Linked DNA regions of Homo sapiens: region 2 is linked to region 1. The links come from fine-mapping of genetic effects on gene expression. A gene starts in region 1. The other region holds a variant in brackets. All regions are shown on one strand. Distances are between the middles of the regions.

Region 1 (4,396 bases):
AATGATAAGCATATAATTAGCTTAATTTAGCCATTTCACAATGTATACACATTTCAAAGCATGATGTTGGACATGACACAATTTTTATTTATCAATGAAAAATGAATTAATTTAAAAGATCAGGCCATTTCCCACTGTGGGTTAGAGTCTACACCCAGCTCTCCTTCCTGACTGCCTTACAGCTGTCAGCTGCTGATTGCACCCTCAGAGTCTCAGCCTTCTTCACCATGCTTTGCTGGCTCACTTCTCAGTTCATTCACTCTTCTCAGCGATTTTGTCTACTGCCATGTGTTACAAGGCCTGAAATTCCATGTGCTGCCTTGGCATAATTGAGCCTCACAGGGCATCAAAGGCCTAGCCACGATTTTCCCTGCTCTCATCAGATATGCTCCCTACCAAGTGGGAAAAGCTCACCCAGCTACATCCCCTATCAGCCAGATCAGCTGCATATCCCCTGGTATTCAACCAAAAAGACTGATTCTCTACCAGCTGGTACAGCCACTGTTTGATCCTGAACTGCAGCAAAATAGTAACCAACAGAGGAGTATCCAGGCAGCTTTCCCACCAAGAGTGCACCCAAGAGGCCCCTCTACCTGGATGTCCTCTAAACCCTCCCCTTCCAACCTACAGTCAGTTGCATCCTCTGAGGAGAGGCTTGTGGTTCTATTTTGGCAATGCTGAATCAGAGCAGGGAAAGCAAAGTTGACAGGGACAGGGAGGAGAGTTAAATGGACATAGAGGAGTTAAATTTTCTATCTAATACAGATCCAGAAGAGACCTGGCTAAGGGTAGAGAGAATAACAGCCCCTTAGATGTAGGTGGGGGAGGGGACACAGGAAGGGGACTTGGGAAATGCTGGACAGGTTGTGAGAGCACAGGGAATTGGGAAGGAGAGGTGGAGGGGACAGAAGGACTGCTTGCAGGCTTATTTTGCAGCTTACGTTAAAGGACAAGAGAAATGCTTGGAATTTGTTATGGTTTTAATGGTTCCTTTTATGTTAATTTCATCTTATTCCTAACTTAAGCTTGCCCATATCCACCATGGCTCTGACCTCTTTGCTCTCCCTGTCCCCTCTTCAGCTTTAGCTCTCACTTCTCAGTCACCAATTGTGCACATAGTTCCCATTTCAGGTTTCTTGGAGTATCTGACTTGCTCAGGATATTTCTTAGGGACAGAGGTTTTTCAATGGGAACCATCTCATATGTCTTGTTGGACTATTGGGTGGCTTCACTTCAGGAAAATTAATTATCTTTGATTGGCTGTGGCCTGAAGGTTTGTTTGACATGACACAAAAAAGCCATCAGGGCATTCCACTTTCCTGGGGACACTGAATAGAGCAGTTGCCCCTGGAAGGCTCTGTGGACATGACATCTGCAATGATGAAACATGTCCCAAACCCCCGGCCCAGCTGTTGGTCTGCTCTTAAACGATGTCTTTTCATTAGGACAGGCATTAGGTTTTAGAGAGAAACACCAGGGTGGTCTCTTCAAAATGGCTAGGGATTAGAGTCTTTGGTCCTTGAATGCCAAGTACTACATCACTTCGACTTCGCAGTGTTTTTCAGATTGATGGGGGAGATCTGGTGTGCAGCATGATCTCACTCTCTGCTCTGTGTCTGAGCACCCCTGCACTGTGCGTTAGGATGAACAAAAGCCCCTTCCAGTGTAACCCAAGTAAGCCCTGTCAGCAAACACACATCCAACCCAAAGGAGTGAAATGACAGACTCTGTTTTAATGGCTCAAACATGGGAGGAGTTTATTGTTCTAATTATAATTAATGTCTCAAAATTCTGGGCAGGCCTCAGCACATAAGCCACATGACTTTTTGTCCAAGGCCATGTTCACCCTGGAGTTGCTTTATGGCAGCATCCATAGCCACTTTGACAGGTCAGTGTCACTTCTGTTCCTGCCCAGTTGTCTGTTGATTAAAAAGACCTGCACATTTTTGGTGGGCTTCTTGCATTTGAAGGATTTGCCTGACTTCTTGATGTTCAGTGCAGGCTCACTGGGACTGGCTTTAGGGAGTTCTTTATCCATGAAGCAGCAGCCCCAAACAACCTCAGTAAAACAGCACAACCAAGGAAGCCTGAAAAAGATGATGAATTCCATGTAATCAAGTGGATCTGGGGACCTCTTCCCCACTGCCACACACCCACACACACTTTGGGCCATCATCTGATTTGAAATGCCAACCATATCATTTATTCAATCTGTCTCACACATGGGGCTGTGTAGGAGCCTGATGGGACCCGGGACATTAAGGACACACTGTTGTATCAATCTGATCATCACCTGACACACACAGACCTGTTAGATTGTACTCAAAGTGCTAGCTTATAGCTCAAGTGTCGACGTAATTCTTACATTCGCATTAATTTTAACTCAATTCTATGTTGCTGTTTTGCAGAGCTGCCTTCTTTTCACCTCTGAGTTTTCCCTGTACTTGGGATAGGGGCTTTCTTCTACTGCATTTTGTGCAGCAAGTTGAGAGAGTAGGTCTCTTTGGTAAATCTATCCATAACAAAATTCATTATTTTACATCTGTATTTCTTCATTCTACAACCTACAGGCTGCTATAATTTGTTTCCTCATTCCAAATCTCTTTATGTTACTTTAGCTTCAAATAGGATTTGCCTTCTTTGAAAATCACTGGTGACGCAGGTATGGATCTTACTCCAAACCCTTGTGTAAGAAATAAACTGGACATTCTCAGGTGCTACCTAGTTTCTGTTTCTAAGGCCCATCCTTCTGAGTTTCCATCCTGGGAACATAATCTCAGTTATTTAAAGATTGTACTCGCCTCTGATAACTGACCCAGTCTCACCCCAAAAAGTGCTGAGTGGTATTATACTTGAATCTGGCATAATGCCAAGGCTAGGGGTGGATGCCAACTGTGTTCTCTATTTTGACCTCAAGAGAGATTAAAGGACTTGCCCAAGTGATAGAAAGGTGAGATTGGAACTGAAAAAAGCCTGTATCTGAAGCCTGTGTTTTTACCCACTGCTCTATAGTTTCTCTGTATCAGTTTGAACAAATGACTCTCCCATACCTTCCCCCCCATTACCAAACAGGGTTGAGGTTTATCAGGTAGATTAGTTAGGTTATGGCACAAAAGGATGCTCTATGATCTTGGTATATCAGAATATTTTACCTGTCAGACCACTCAGGTTTCTTTTGAAGAAAGACCTGGACCAGAGAGTAAACAGTGAGAGGAAACATGACTTCTTTCCTTAGCACACTCTCTCTTTTTCCCTGAGTCCCAGGGCCTGATTGGTTCAGAACCAAGTGAAGTCACGGTTACTATGATTACTCACGACTGCTCTCAGAACGTAATGCCAACAGTCTGCAAGATTCAAATACTGACAACCATCACCTGGCTTCCTTCTGGTTCAGAGCAGAATAGGGTAAGTGGAAGTTGCTGGGAGAGGAAGTAGGTATATCTTGTGGCTGGGTGCCATCTACATGTCTCCTTCCTGGATGGGACATTCAGCTATCCTGGCCTCAGAGCTTGTCCCTGGCTTGTGCAAAATCCCTTCATTAAAATTTATCCTTTGTGTAGATTACAGCACCCACTGCATCTTGCCAGGTTCCCTGGGTAGTGATCAGCGACTTTGTCTGCCATGTTCCAATCAGGGAATTAGTGTTAGGTTGAATTTCCCATTTGCTTGTCAATCTCTGCATCCAGTTTTGGTCATGACTCTGCAATTACTCCCTCTATAATACACAGTTCATGTAAATGGAGTGTTTAGTTGCAGAAATTTAACACTGCAGTTAAACACTGCTGTGTCTCACACAACTGTGTGACCCCCTCCCAAAGCTCAGAGCAGTGGAACTCCACACTTTTATTCTGTGGACCTGGGATGCAGGTGGGCTTTTAATGCCTTGGAAAATCTTATGCTAAAACTAGACTAGTTTGTTGAGACATATGCATATGTCTCAAGCCATATTCCCTTTCAAGTATCTGATCTAGAATAACTACATTGTTACCATTAAAGTGTGACGCAGGTGGGTAGTGTCTATATGCAGGACATGGATTTTCCAGGCTGTCAGAGGGATAACGGTGAGGACAGGGCTTTGTGATTTTTATAGTGGGGTTCTCATGAGGAACTAAAATGACTGTTATGAGGAGATGTGGCTTGCCTGCACACTGGCTGCCCACTCAATCTTATGTAAGAACTGAGGAAATTGAGGTTCCTGTAAAGCGACCCAGGTCACACACTCCCTTTCTTGAGTGGCAGGGAAGGAAGGCTCAGTCCTTCAGGTTTTTTCCTAGCCCCCACAGAACCATGTAAAGACCCTGAGGCTGTGTTCAGTGTTCTAAACAATTTGCAGTGGGAAGAGAACTTATTGGTATTCAGTATTTTATTAACAAAGAAAGTGGAAAACTCTTTCTCT
Region 2 (4,396 bases), 860 kb before region 1:
CGGATCACAAGGTCAGGAGATCCAGACTATTCTGGCTAACATGGTGAAACCCCGTCTCTACTAAAAAATACAAAAAATTAGCCGGGCGTGGTGCGGGCACCTATAGTCCCAGCTACTGGGGAGGCTGAGGCAGGAGAATGGCGTGAACCTGGGAGGCAGAGCTTATAATGAGCGGAGATCACGCCACTGCACTCCAGCCTGGGTGACAGAGCGAGACTCCATCTCAGGAAAAAAAAAAAAAAAAAGAAAAGAAACAGCAGCCATTTGGCTCCAGCCTAGTGTAGCCAAACAGGAGTGAGGGCTCAATATTGCCAGATCTTCTGATATTTCAAGAGAAGCTGAAAAATTTGGACTTCAAAAAATATGAAACCTTTCAATTTTTAAATGCTGGCAATTAAAATTTTAAAAGAACACCTCTGTGTGCCAGATCCAGCCCATCAGTTTGAGACCTTGGCTCTAAAGTGATGGTTTCCAAATCCTCTAAGTCTGTGTAACCCATCTGTGCTGATTCTCCTTCTTATTGCTAGTGCACCAAGAAGAGAGGTTACATCAATACAAATGGCACAGATCAAATCACTTTGACTACTGTATTTCAAAATTTTGTGTTTTGTGAATATTAAAAAACTGCCAAATCAATAATGAAAATGACCATATGTCAGTGATACAAATATCTCCTACATGTGAAACACATGTTTAATTAACAATATTGTCACTACTATGGTACAAATACTCAAATTTAGCCCAGTTCACGTATGTGTTAAGAATTATGTGTTCAAGCTTGTGTTCCAAATAATTCTGTAAACTAAAAGGCAGCCAAATGGAATAATTCTAAGTTTCTGAATAATAAAGTTTATCTATGATAAATACTGTATTAAAAGGGGACACACCATCACTTAAAAGAACAAAATAGGCCGGGCATGGTGGCTCACGCCTGTAATCCCAGCACTTTGGGAGGCCAAAGCAGGCGGATCACTTGAGGTAAGGAGTTCGAGACCAGCCTGGCCAACATGGTGAAACCCCGTCTCCACTAAAAATACAAAAATTAGCTAGGCATGGTGGCACGCATCTGTAATCCCAGCTACTTGGGAGGCTGAGGCAGGAGAATCGCTTGAACCTGGGAGGTACAGATTGCAGTGAGCCGAGATTGCACCACTGCACTCCAGCCTGGGCGACAGAGTGAGACTCCGTCTCAAAAAAAATAAAAAATAAAAGAACAAGATATCCTCATGTGGAAACAGCAAAGCCCATTTTACTAAACTATTCAATTATTCCAAACAAACGTTTTAAAAATAGAGTGTGAAACGCACAGTTTACATTTATTTTCATTTTAGGGCCTTCGGGTCCCAGGGACAGCTGCATCCATGGCAATTACTGAATACTTTATTTGCACATGCTTATATGGAAGTGGCATAAATCATAGGCTCAAAGAATAGAGTAGAGATGGGGACTTGGAACTGTACCCCTGCATCCATACCTGTCTACTGAATACTGGGCAATGTAATTGAGAAAAGCAAAGCAATTTTCAGTTTCCTTGTCTGCAAAAGAGAAAATAATCTAGGCATGTCCCACCCTTGAAGAATATCAAACCCAAAAGGTATTTTTTTGTTGTTTTTGTGCTCACCACTACATTCCTGCCCTGGCCCATAGTAGGGCTGAATGAATGAATAAAAGAAAGGAAGAAAGAACACCAGATGCAGTTGTGTAATCCTATATATTTCTGTTACATGGAAACAGAATTTAACAGATTTGGCCGGGCGCAGTGGCTCACGCCTGTAATCCCAGCACTTTGGGAGGCCAAGGAGGGCGGATCGCTTGAGGCCAGGAGTTTGAGACCAGCCTAGCCAACATGATGAAACCCTGTCTCTACTAAAATTACAAAAATTAGCCAGGCATGTTGATGTAGAGACGCTTGTAATCCCAGGTATTTGGGAGGCTGAGGCAGGAGAATTGCTTGAACCTGGGAGACGGAGGTTGCACTGAGCCAGATCGCACCACTGCACTTGCACCACTGCACTCCAGCCTGAGCGACAAAGCAAGACTCCATAAAAAAAAATAAATCAATAAAAAATTTAAAAAAATAAAAAAAACAGAATTTAGCAGATTCTATTCAACTGACACACCTGAGAAACTCAGTGCTTTAAAAGAAAACCCAAGGATACCAAGTTTTGGTCAATGTAAAGATGTCACTGGGGTGTGCTTGGTATCATAAAACCACTTGAAATGTGTGCTTGAAAAACTTCGATTTAAATGTTCCACTTTAAGAACACAGCCCTTTTACACATGGTTTCTATCAAAGTTTTCTGCTGATGAAGCTGATTGAATTTGCAGATTGCTATGGAATTACTAAGGGCAAACAATGCATATGCATAGTCAGGTCTCACCTAGCTGGCATTTCCAGCTGATGAGAGGATGTCTTTGTATCTCCTTAAAGAATCTTTATATCTTTCTCTCTCCCTTCTTTATATCTCCTTAAAGAATCTAGCCTCTTCTGTGGGAAAATAAAAATAAGAGCTGGGAAAGGGCACAGAGCTAAAATCTCTGCTCTTTCAATAGGGTTCACCCTTAGAGGAGGGTGACAGAGAGTCACAGCCTCCTACTTGAGCCAAAGCAGTTCAGCTTTGGTTTTCTCTATTGGGGTTAGATCTAAAGATTTGTATTTTTTGAAGATAGGTTTCTATCATTTTTTTTAAGTTTGAAAACAACCATTATAGGTAAAGGCTATGAATGAGAGCTATGGCAGGATTTAGACCCAGAAATGAAGATTCCATCTCCA[G/A]CAGCAGAGGGAAGCTGCTGAAAGCTTGTATCACCGAGCTTGCTTCAAGCCCGAGGGCCTTGGAAGGACTTCCGACTACCACCATAATTGATGAAATGGATAAAATTCAGGTTTAGCATTTCTAAAAGTTTGTCCTATGCTTTTTACTCTTTAAGGTTTAATACATTTAGGTATTTGAAGATATATATTTTAAAACCTGGGGAGAATTCTGTAGCAAGTAGACATAACAAAGGCAATTCTTGTCACCTGCTGAGCATGTACCCTAACTGAAATCTAAGTACCTACACTGACCATGTGGCTGCATGCAGGGGTGGGCAGGGTGAAGGTGAAGGCAAAAACGCAGCAACCTTTTGAGGGATGAAATGGCAAAGCCTGACAGGTATGGTGCTGGCAAAGGTTACATTCCCTCTTGTGAGCGCACAGAGACCGGGGCACCAAAAAGGAGGGACCATTACTGTATCGTGCCTGGATGAGCCTTCTCTTAGATTCCTTCATTATTTTCAAAGGTCAATGTCCCTCTCTCAAAGAGAAAATTGAGGAACCCTGAGTCATCACAGAGTATAAACAAGCCACTGTGGCTAAATGAAGAGGACAGAGAACGCTTATCCAGTATAAGCATTCTTACACTGGCTTCCCACAGGTTGTTCTGAACTTGAGGGCAAATCAGAAGAAAATCTCCTGGACCCTATTAATGTCACCGAGCAGAAGCACTCTTTGGCCTTCTATCACCAGATTTTGCAATGCCAGTCCTGCACCTTGGCTCCTTCCACCCAGGGAGAAAGATTCCTAATAGCTGATCAGGTCAGCCTAACCTTCTCGTGGCTGGCAGCAGGAGTCTCCTCTGTCCCATCCCAGCATTTGCTCCATGCAGCTTTCCTGCTCCCTACTGTTCGTGCAACGACATGAGCAGATCTTTACTTTAAAGCAGACATTCAAATAGTTCTGTTGTGCCTGGCAAATTCCCTTTTCATATGCCCAAGTTGAAAGCAAATGAGATTTTCCCTTGAAAAGACATTGCCCCCGAGAGCTAATATTTAGGGTAAGCAGTGACATTGGTTGAGTCAATTAAAATGAACCTTCTGAAACCTCCTGGTACAAATAAAGCCCTTTGTACAATGCCGCCCCTAATACCACAACTTAGAAGGTTGGAGATCAGTGTAAGAATTTGTGGCAATTAGTAAAACTTACCTCACGCTGGATGTGTGGCAGATAGGATGTATTCGGCAAAGGCTGGATATGGTTGAAAACAACTTCCAAGGTGCCTAAGTTAGGGAAAAAAATGAGAATCAAGAGGCAAAGTTACCTTTTTAGAAGCAAAGTTCTGAATTCTAAAAAAATAAAGTCAACTTCCTATGAAATGGCTCATGGTAACACATTCTACTTTGTATTTACAACCCTTAGAGTTAAAGGAAAACTGCCAAGATGTTCTGCATACTTCTCCAAATGTCTGTTTATCATATAACATGAGCACTGGCAGTGGATCTGGCTCCCTCATTATCAAGCCGTATTAGCTCAAACACTCAGCATTGTTAGGGGAGTGAGCTCATGGCCTATTTCAGTTTTAAATTAACATTTGGCAATCACCCGGGTAATCAAAACAAATGACTCAGTCGTTTAGAATAG

Direction of the effects. Alleles are on the strand shown, and positions count from the first base shown. SD is a standard deviation of normalised expression in the study named.
For the expression in subcutaneous fat of the gene that starts at base 2,038 in region 1, A is the high allele of the variant in region 2 and G is the other (large effect, 0.81 SD a copy in GTEx).

Evidence for each region. PIP is the estimated chance that this variant, and not a neighbour inherited with it, causes the effect.
Region 2: its variant is fine-mapped to the expression of ETDC in subcutaneous fat (GTEx, PIP above 0.99).

The regions. Positions count from the first base shown.
Region 1 is chrX:135,307,122-135,311,517 of GRCh38, reverse strand. ETDC (embryonic testis differentiation homolog C) reads right to left here and starts at 2,038. Exons shown (of 1, transcript NM_001358449.1): 1 at 1,859-2,038. The coding sequence starts at 2,038. The coding sequence ends at 1,859. All of the region lies in intron 1 of ZNF75D (zinc finger protein 75D), which reads left to right.
Region 2 is chrX:136,169,546-136,173,941 of GRCh38, reverse strand. It overlaps a transcript of FHL1 not described here. Among named protein-coding and RNA genes, the nearest start is that of FHL1, 25 kb to the left of the region's middle. The variant G/A (reference allele first, on the strand shown) is at 2,774.